Regions from separate parts of the Homo sapiens genome. Here region 1 is linked to region 2. Evidence: fine-mapped expression QTL. Tissue or cell type: atrial appendage. Region 2 holds a variant in brackets; the other region holds the start of a gene. All regions are shown on one strand. Distances are between the middles of the regions. Region 1 holds the start of SPHKAP (SPHK1 interactor, AKAP domain containing). Region 2 has its middle 200 kb from the start of SPHKAP.

What was found. PIP is the estimated chance that this variant, and not a neighbour inherited with it, causes the effect.
Region 1: SPHKAP starts here. The variant in region 2 is the best candidate, but not a certain one, in a credible set for the expression of SPHKAP in atrial appendage (GTEx, PIP 0.61).

The regions. Positions count from the first base shown.
Region 1 is chr2:228,179,288-228,184,668 of GRCh38, reverse strand. SPHKAP (SPHK1 interactor, AKAP domain containing) reads left to right here and starts at 2,982. Exons shown (of 12, transcript NM_001142644.2): 1 at 2,982-3,102. The coding sequence starts at 3,071.
Region 2 is chr2:228,374,177-228,379,557 of GRCh38, reverse strand. No RefSeq gene overlaps it. Among named protein-coding and RNA genes, the nearest start is that of SPHKAP, 200 kb to the right of the region's middle. The variant T/C (reference allele first, on the strand shown) is at 2,625.

The sequences.
Region 1 (5,381 bases), 190 kb after region 2:
TTCTTTTAGGAGAGCTCTGCTGGAATTCTATACCATTTTCATCTTCATTTCTAATGAGTATTTTTATTAGACATAAGATTCTGTGTTCATAGTTGTCTTCCTCCACACCTGAAAAATGTTGTCAATTACTTCAGTCCTCCATGGCTTCTAGTGGGAAATCCACTGTTTTTGAACTATATTTCCCTTATGGGTAAAGTGATGTTTCTCTCCAACTAATAAAACAGTTTGTGTTTTATTTTGGTTACTGTATTTTTCACTTCTAAAATCTCCACTTAGTTTTTCTTTACATCTTCTACTTATATTTGCTTAGATATTTTAGGGGCTGACTTTCTATTTTTTTTATATTACTTATTAAATTATTTTTATCATGGCTGCTTTAAAATCTTTTGACAGATACATTTAACATCCCTGTCATTTCCATGTTATTTAGTATCAATTGATTGTTTTGTTTTGTGTTGATTCTCATTCAGATCTGATTCTTAATATGACAAATAATTTTCTATTAAAGGCTGCTTATTTGGGGCATTATGTTAGAACATTCTGAATTTTATTTAAAGAGCTGTTTTAGACGGATTCTCTTGACACTTCTCCTGTAAGGCAAGGAAAATAAGGGCAGCACTGCCTCATCACTACCAAGTGGGGTTAGAAGTCTGGGCTCCTCACTTGGCTTTTGTTGACACTTGAAAAACAGGTAGTGGCATTCATTACTGTGAAGCAAGGGTGGGTGGGAGTTCAGGGTCCTCACTAGGCCTGCACTGATATCTCTCTGGCTAAGAGTGGTAGGAGTACCCAGTTCCTGCTTCCCATGTGGCCTTCTGTGATTGGGAGTGGGGGGCAGGGGACACACACAGGGCCTTATTACTTCTGAACTATGGTTTTTGACTCTCCACAACAATTCCTCTGACACTGCTTCAGTGTAGAGTGGAAGTGGGGCGGGGCGGGGGGGGGGGGGTGCCGATTACTGCTCTGTGGATGTGAAAGTACAAGCTCCACTGATACCAAGGTGAAGAAGCGGTGCTGCTACTCCTTGTTAGGATTAAAAGTCCTGGATCCCATGGAACCAGCCCAAATGCCCATCAATCAACGAGTGGATAAAGAAATTCTGCTATACATATATATGATGGAATACTACTCAGTCATAAAAAGGAATGAATTAATGGCATTTTTAGCAATTTGGATGGAACACGAGACTATTATTCTTTGTGAAGTAACTCAGGAATGGAAAACCAAACATATGTTCTCGCTCGTAAGTGGGAGCTAAGCTGTGAGGATGCAAAGGCATAAGAATGCTACAATAGACTTTGGGGACTCAGGGGAAAGTGTGGGAAGGGGGTAAGTGATAAAAGACTGCAAATTGGGTTCAGGGTATACTGCTCAGGTAATGGGTGCACCAAAACCTCACAAATCACCACTAAAGAACTTAAGTAACCAAATACCACCTGCTCCCCAAAAATCTATGGAAATAAAAAATATTTTTTAAAAAGTCCTGGCTCCCTACTTTGCCTTAATGCCACCTGTATGTGTGGAATGGGAAGGGGACTTCATTATTTCTGTGTGGATGTGGAAGTTCAAGCTCTTCTTGGCACCATGACGGGGGAAACGAGACATGAAGAGGTGAGTGCGGCCAGTGTTTGGAGGGGATGAAAGTCCTGGTCCCTACTTAGTCTCCTCTGACACCACCTCGCCCAGGGGACTGACTTACATCCTTAGAGCCTACAGATGGTGAAATGTAGGCTCCCTACTTGGCCTTTGATGGTGTAGTTGAAAAAGGTCCACAGGTTTTTTCTCATGGTGTTTGGCCACAGTGGAGCTATTATTGTGTGTAAATTTTCCATCTTGCTAAGCTGCCTCTCTCCTGATCCTTTGGCTAGAAAGAGGAGTCCTTTGTCAAGGCTTTTCCTGTCTCTGCCCCTTGACATTTCCGGGTTGTCATCTTCTTCAGCCAAAGTCTGGGAGAACCTCAGGAACCCATCATCATGCCAAGCCTTGAGTCCCAGGATCTCTAGCTGGTCTGCATTCTTCTGTCCACCTTTTTCTCATGCCTGTTTCAGAGATAATATCCGGGGGATTTCGTTGTACTTACTAGGAGGAATAGCTAAAAGTACATTGGCTCAACCTTCCCATTTGTGGAAGTCCCAAATTTTATTTTTAATTTGTTTTTTAATTGGAAAAAGAAGCAGATTCAACAGCGCCCTCATTTTAGCAGATATTTGCTACTATCAGTGTCTTTCTTCTTAAGAAAACTGTCCTTTTTGCTCAGGGAGATACCCAGCCGTCAACTGGGGAAGTTTGTGACAGCTCTCCCTCCCAGGTTCTGAGTGCTGTCCTCGGATGGATGGCCGCTCTCATAGGTTTTGAGATTTCTATGTGCGCACACGGTTCTAACAGAAGAGAGAGAAGACTAAGTCACAGTTAAGCAAAATGAGTTAAAGAAACGTGAAAACCAAAACCAAGAGAGAAAGTCCAAATAAAGGGAAAAGACTTAGGAGGTCAAAGCCAGCATCGTTCTGAGTGATCGACCATAACATGGTAGACCACAAACAAAAATGAAATCGACACAGGAAGCCAGAGGAGTGGCGCGCAACCAGTGGGGAGTGTCGGCATTGCCAGGAGTGAGGGCGTGAATGTGGGAAAGTGCGTGAACAACTTCAGGGCTCAGACCTACTGTACGCCAGCGAGAAAGGGAGGGGAGACGATGGTGGTTGGGGAGAGAGGAATTTTGTCGGAGTCACCTATGCTTCTGGGCACGAATGAGCGATAGAGCAGGATCCTCGAGCAACTGAGACTGGGGCCCGCCTGCAGGAGGCAGGAGCCAGGCAGAAAGGTGGGAGCGTTGGCCACGCGCTCCTGCAAGATCAGAGAGGACGGCGGGAGGGGACAGCGGGCGGTCGCAGCGCACAGAGCTTGCTGGCCAGGGAGGAGCTAGTCTCCGTGGGCGCCGCCGCCGCCCCAGCCTGCGCGCCTCTCTCCTGGCGCGCGCCAGTCTGGCACTCTGGGAGCTGGGTCCTAGCACCACAGACTTATCCTTCGCCTGCACTTTCCGTCTTTCTTCTCTGGGCGCCCACCAACAATGGATGGCAACTCCCTGCTCTCGGTACCAAGGTAAGACCCGCTTCTTTCTATGCCCAATACCATGTCGATCAAACTCCGTTCCGCGTTGTGAGTCGCTCACCAACTTGCCCCAGAGCGCTTCGGTTTGCACGGGGCTCCCAGCGAGGAGACAGGGGTCACTGCACTTGTAAATAAGTCCGGCCCAGCCTCGCTGGAGCTACAGGGGACCCTGTCAACTGCCCCACAGGGCGCGATGCTGAGTGGGGCCTGTGCGCTGGAGTGGCACGGGTTGGGGGTCAGCCCCGTGCCCGCCTCTAAGGCCCAGGGACGGAGGTCTGCTCTGCCCTAGGTGGAGCCAGGAGCCGGACTTTCCGCGGACACAGCTTGGAGAGGTTTCACACCTTGTGGAGAGACAGATTCCAAGGTCTAAAACAGGAGGGAACCGGGCTAGGGCAAAGTACCCCCGCTTTCCTTCCACCTTGACCTGGGCGGGTGTCTGGGGCTGCTGGGGTGGGGAAGATTGTCCCTCACCCCCGACCGACACCTAGACTGCCCCCAAAGCGAGATCTTAAGACAGGGCAGAAAACACCTAGGTCCCCTGCAGTCCCACAGTCCTCCACCGTCCCCACACCCCCTGCCAGTCTGCGAGTTCCTTCTTTAACACCTTTGGTTTTGCTCGTCCCCCACACCGGGGTAGGTCACGGACGCCACCCCAGGCGCTGCCGGGTGCGAGTAACGTGTTTTTCGGGGTGTGTTTCTTTCTCCTGTCTCTTTTTTGCCCCTGTTCCACACTCCTTCTAACTCAGTCCTTTGCGAAATTAAGAACCTGAGATTTTTATGTCTTTCCCATAAATGTCTGGGTAAATCGGGGCGGTGGTGCTGGGCCTGCTCCCCCAGCCGGGCAGGTGGCCTTTGCGCTCTTTGCGCTCGCTGGGCGCGGAGCGCTCGCGCCGGGAGCCAAGGATGCTGTTGCTCCCAGGGAGAGGGTGTCCTGGCTGCGGCGCAGCCCCACCTCTCCTGGGCAGCGGCTTAGCGTGGCTCTTCGTGCCATCCCTACTCCCTCTTTTCCCCAAGCAGGTAGGTAGGTAGCTTCCAGAGCAGAGCACCAGGCCCTAGAATAAACACTTTAAGTTCGGATTCTTGGAGAGCAGCAAAACCCAATATCCACTGGCCAGGGCACACATGGAGTGATACTACATTGCCAAGGAGCCGAGATGCGGTGGGAGGGGAGGTGGGGGTGGCGGAGGAGGAGAGAGACTGCTTTCCAAAGGCATTGAAGGCTGCCATCTAGAGACCTGAATTATTTGTATTCCGCGATGAAATAACGCTTTCTCAGCTCCACAGGCACTTCCTCCTTAAGCGTCCCTTCGCTGCGGGGATAGCAAATGGTTCAGAAAAGGCCCGCTGTGGTTTCTGTGCACTCCTTGAAGCAGCTCTTAAGTGAAGTCTCAATCCCCACCCTCCCGATCCCTGCCCCAGCGGAACAGGGTCAAAGGACCACCGCTGTCTTTCCATTTTGCCGATTTTTTAACTTAAAAAAAATTGCCAGTGATGTTTACGCAAAGGCATTAAGGTGTTTGGAAAGTCATGTAAATTGGAAGCTCACTTTCTCCACCTATCTATTCTACTGTCTAGGGCAAATGGTCATTAGAATTGAAACGGTGAATTGGGTGGTCCTAATAATCTTCCGACAGAGATTTTTGATAACAGATTGATTGCTTTAATCCGGTTTTACAGACCAATATAGCTGCGCCTGAATCCTGATTATATTTCTATTCAAATACCGGAACATTTTCTAAATTACTAGAAACACATTGTGCCAGTAATTTATTACAATTATTTCTGTCTCAGTACTATAAAATGACCTTATAAAGAGCAAAGCAACTCTGATGATATTGCTCTGTATCTTGTAGTGGCCTATCAAAATGTTAATATAGGCTTAATATCAGCTGCAGCAAACTAAGCTTTTTGAACCTGACTTTTTATTCACCAATTTCCACAAATCAGTGTAGTAATTTCCGGTATTTTATTAGCCTTCTTAATCCACAAATCAGTGTAGTAATTTCGGGTATTTTATTAGCATTCTTAATCATGTAAATTAACTCCTGTACATGAGTTGATTCAATCCTCTATTTCATTGTATACAAGAAACACCATTCCTTTTCTATAAGACTTAATTGAAAGCCATAGGGATTGGGATGCAAAAAGAAAATTAAAATTTTTAATGGTGTAGACAAATCATGTATTAGTCATGCTACTTGTTCACAAAACATTGCATTTTAAAGAATTGATTATTGAATATTCCACATAAGCTTTTCGAAGAAACCAAC
Region 2 (5,381 bases):
TAAGCAGAGTTATGACGACAAAAGATGTCCACGTCCTAGTCCCTAGGACCTGTGACTATGTTATGTTATATGGAAAAGGGGAGTTAAGATAACATAAAATTAAGTTTGCTAATCAGATGATCTTAAAATCTTGTATTATCCAGGAGGGCCCAATGTAATGACAAAGGGCCTCAAAAGTGGAAGAAGGAGGTGCAGGAGAAAGAAGCAGAGAGATGGAAGGATGAAAAGAACTTGACCTGATGTTGCTGGCTTTGAAGATGGAGGAAGAGGCCTTGAGCCAAGAATGCCAGTAGCCTGTAGAAGCTGGAGAAAGCAAAGGAATCAGTTCTACCTAGCGCTTCTAGAAAGAAATGCAGCCTACCAATGTGATTTTACTTGGTGAGATCTGTGCCAGATTTTTGACTGTCAGAACTGGGAGATAATAAACTTATGTTTTGTTAGAGCACCGAATTGGTAGTAATTTGTTACAGCAGCATTAGGAACTAATCCAAGTTCCTTGATCTAACACTCCCCTGGCTTTGCCCCAACTTCTCAGGAATCCCTATCTTTCCAGGCTTTTCCTCTTCTCTGAGGTATTTACAGCCTCATGCTCTGTGCTAAATGCACTTTCTACTTACTCTGTGTTAACCTCACCCAGGGCTCTAATCAGCACTTCTATACAGATAACTCACACATTTTCATTCCTAGCCCATACCTCTTGTTGAGTTCTAGGTCTATAAATATAACCGCTTGGCTGACAGCTGACAGCTCTTCTCAGATGGATCACAGTCACTTCAAAACAAATCAGGCCAAAAAAAAATTAAATCATAATCTTTTTTCCCTTTTAACTTGATCCTCTTCTGGTATGTTCTATCATCTCAGTAAATGGAACCATCGTCCATCTAGTCATATAAACCAGACATTTAGGAGTCATCTTCAACACTTCTTCTTTATCTCTTATATCAAATCACTATCTCACATGAATTTTACTTACTAAATTATTGCCAAAATCCATCTATCCTCTTCTTTATAATCTCCATTGGCACCATTCTGGCTGTATTGGTTTTCTATTGCTGTATAACAAATCAACACAAACTCAGCCGCTTAAAACAACACCCATAATATTAGGTCACAGTGCTGAAGATTAGAAGTTTAGCAGGGTGTGGCTAGGTTCTCTGCTCAGGCTGAAATCAAAGTGTCAGCCAGCTGCATTGTCATCTGGAGCTTGGAGTCCCTTTACAAGATCATTCCTGTTATTGCTAGAATTTAGCTTCTTGCAGTTTTAGCATCAAAGTCCCCATTTCCTTGCTGGCTGTCAGCGGAGGACTGCTCCTTGCTTCTTGAGGCCACCTGTGCACATTCTTCATCACGGAGTACCCTCAAACTTCAAGTCAGCAATGGTGCAGTGAATTTTTCTTCTGCTCGCAATCTCTCTGACTTCTCCTCCCACAACCAGCTGGAGAAAGCTCTCTAAGCAATTTTCAGGACTCAAGTGATTAGAGCCAGACACATCCAGCTAATTTTCCTACCTTAAGGTCAACTGTGCGTATAACATAACATAATCAGTGGTACAATATCTAATATTCATAGATTCTAAAGATTAGGGTGGGCTATCTTAGGGGGCTATTTTTGAAATCTCACCTACAACATTGGCACACGCTATCATCATCACTCTCTGTCCTATGAATTCACTTCCTAATTCATCCACCCAAATCCACTTTTCTCCCCCTGGCAGCCAGAGTGATCATCTCAAAACACACTCCCGATAATTTTAACCAGGTGCTTCCTTTTATTGCTCTTAGCCATAGTCGTGGCCTAGAGCCGTGCTGCCTGATGTGCCTTCTGCAGCCTGGTTTCCTGGACTGTTAATGCTCTGCAGGGAGATCAGAACAGAAACCAAGAGCAAGCGTCTAGACATTTTGATAGTGATTTCACAGAGTAGTTTTATGTCTATAAACTAAACATATACTTGGAGCTTGTATTTTATGTACTTTAAAATTTGTTTGGTTTTTAGTGACGTATTATTTACCTTATTTTATGTAAGTATTGTGCCAAGAAAATTGAAACAAACAAAACTGATTCTCCAGCACTGAGAAATGGGGAAGCGTGGGGCCAGTGAGCTCTGCACAGCCTGGTCTCTACTTCTCCAGCTTCATCTCATGCCATGCAGCTTCTCACTCTCTACCTCTGGCTATAGTGGTGTTCTGTAGTCCCTTTGGCATGCCATGTTTCTTGTGCCTTGCTGACTGCTCTCACTAGGTTACAATCTCCCCATTATATTTTCTCAGATACCTCCAATATGTACTTATCACAGTCTCAATATTTCTTATTTATAAATATGCAAATATTGTTAATGTCTTCATTCCTCCTAAAATGTAAGTTCTGTGGTGTCAGAGAGCTTACCTTCCACCTAAGTGGCACACACCCCGCTCCCTGCACAGTGCCTGACACATTACTGGTGCTCAACAAATGCATACAGAAAAAGAGGATGAATAAATACACAAAGGTATTCCATATTATTCAAATTCAAATAGCGCCTCAGCCAAGTATTACCTGTTTGATCTTAATCATGTTAGTTAAATCTGCTGTTTCATTGTTATTATAGGTAAGATGGAAATAATATTGACAGCTTCACAAGACTGATA[T/C]GAAAATTAAAGCATGTGCAAAGGCTTTCTTTGAAAACTGCAAGAGGCTTTTAAGATGCAATTAATGAGTTGGTGTAAATTATGTTTCTTCCAACACATTGGCAAAAGGGCGAAATATACAACAAATCTAAAAGTCCTTTGGAAATATGTGCCACAGTCTTTAGAAATATTTAATCTTTGCTTCAATCATAGGGGTTCTAAAATTTTATTCTAACATAATAATCGGGCAAATATGCAATATATATGTAAAAAGATGTTCATTCCAGCATTATTTCTAATAAAAAAGTAAGAAAGACTCTAAATATAACCTCACACGTGAAGGGACTGTGGTAACCTGGTTGGCACAATTTAAGAAACAACCTAAATATGTTTCCCCCATATGAAGAGGGGTATGGACCAATGCTGGTAGAGGGCTGAGTATGGTACACAGTGTGACTGAAGAAAAAAATCTTTTTATACCCAGATACACAATGCTTTGCAGTGACAAGAGCCTACGAGTGTAACCCAAGCCTGAAGATTTATGATCACAATCATAGAGTAACCTCAACCTGAACATGACATGGAGAGGTTAGCTTGAGATTTACACTAACACTGGTGGCAGTGGGGCAGTAGACTCGATCCCCGGCACATAAGCTGTACAACTATTTCTATCAAGAGTCGACTTCTCCAAAACTGGTATCACTATGAGCAGAGAATCCCTGAGGCCTTCCTTTATGGTAGCGATTTAAAAAAAAAGCAACCACTTCTAAAGTAGATGTTTCAGAGGCAGTTATGGGGTTTCCAATCTTAATGAAATAATAACTCTGAGTTTTAAAATGTCTGCACCAACACAAGAGAAGCAATGTTCTCTATAAACACTTAGCAAGCATCCATAATTCTCGATTAATTCTTGGAGGCTCCAAAGTAGAAATACTGGATTGCCTGTGAGCTGGAAGGAGAGTGGCTTGAGACATTAATTTGAATGTAAAAGAAGTATGAATTAATATATCCTTCAAGTTGGTTCTACTCAGTATGCCGAACAAAATGCCTCAACTCTTTTTAAGTAAGAAAAAAAGATATGCTGTTTTGTTACTTCTCTCCCATATCCTTGTGCTCAATTAGGAAAAGATGAACTGATAAAATATACCGAGGACCCACCAGTCTAATTCCTGAGGATCCTTGGCAGGAACAGAGCCCAAATGAGAAAGGGTCTTTCTAAAGGGATGTTGCTTATAACTCACTGGAAACCACTTGAATAATGACTCTGAATTTGGAAGAACCGATCGGTGGAAGCAAACTTAAGTTCTACAGAGATGCTCTACTATGCAGAATTCAATGGTAGGAATAATGGCACAATGGACAATCCATGCTCAGCCTTAAGGCATTTCTGCTCAAATTTTCATAACACTACTGTAGATCCTAGATTTCTCTAATATTGATTAATATCACAAAGCCTATTTAGGATGTGGGTTGGAAGTTGTGTTAGCTAAGAAAAGAGAGCTTTCAGTTACAGCAAAACCATGGAGAAACATTCTGTCAGAAGGTAGAAGAAATAGAAGATTTTTACAAGGAGTACTAGAAAAAATTAATAAAGGAAGAGGGTGAAATATGGGCATAAAATGCACAAGAATAAGTGTATTTAGCAAAAACACATGCTTATGTGGTGCTCATGATGTGCCAGGCACTACTCAAAGAACTTCACGTGTATTTACTCATTGAATAACCTCTATAAGACCTATGAGGATGCTGCCAGTATTAACTGAGGAATGAGAAAACTGAGATGTAGAGGGCTGACAGCCTTTCCAGGTAAGTAGCTGAACTAAGGTTTAAATCCAGGCATCCTGGCTCTAGGCCTGTTTTTCAGCCACCACGCCTTGTAAGAAGTGGCAAAAACAACGTTTTTGTAGGAGAAATTTAATGGGAAGCAAGAATTTGGGAATTTGGCTGGATGAAACATGCAGGGTCCAGGAAGAAGTTGAGCATGCAGAAAGAATTTGGAAATGTGGCCAATAATAGCACCGTGCAGTTTGAGAGTTCATATGGTGGAAACAGCCATGTGGCACTGGCAGCCTCCTTAAACTTGATCTTCCTGTCCCATTGCCCTGGGCTTGGCTTTCCTTCACTACAAAGAACCCATTTGTTACTTCTAGTGAGAAAATTGAAAGTGGCTGTGGGAAATAAAGCTGAAATTACTCAACATCTGAGCAACCTGTTAGAAATGGCAATGACTGTCCTTAACCTTGAAAAACTCTCTCAAATGAAGACTGCTTGTAGCTGATTTCAAAGGTAAAAAGGAACACTGTTTTAATATCTGTGCGTTAAGCCCTTTATGTTATGCTTTGTTAGTCTTCACTGGCTATAATTTTTGCCACCATTATTTTATTTTTTGCCTTTTTGTCAGGGGTAGCACAATCATTAGCTCCTAAAATAATGAGAATTTAAGGTATTAATATTTTTCCTTTTCAGTGATTGTATGTAATTTAGGATTAAAAATACCAATAACTACATACTATTTTAGGCAAAGAAAGGAAATGAGCAAATGTTCACTATTTTAAGATGAGAGCATTATATAAAGGAAATTGTGGCCATAAAATTTAACCAAATCATGATTTATTTCTTATGATGAGAAAAACCTGGAATCGCATGAAAAAAAAAAAAAAATAGTCTCCAAACTGATAGGGAGCCAAGAGACCAACAGTTGATTCGGACAAGACCAAGCTAGTGAGTAGGTGAGTTTATTAGGACTTACATATGAGGCACTCCTGGACTGCAGCAGAA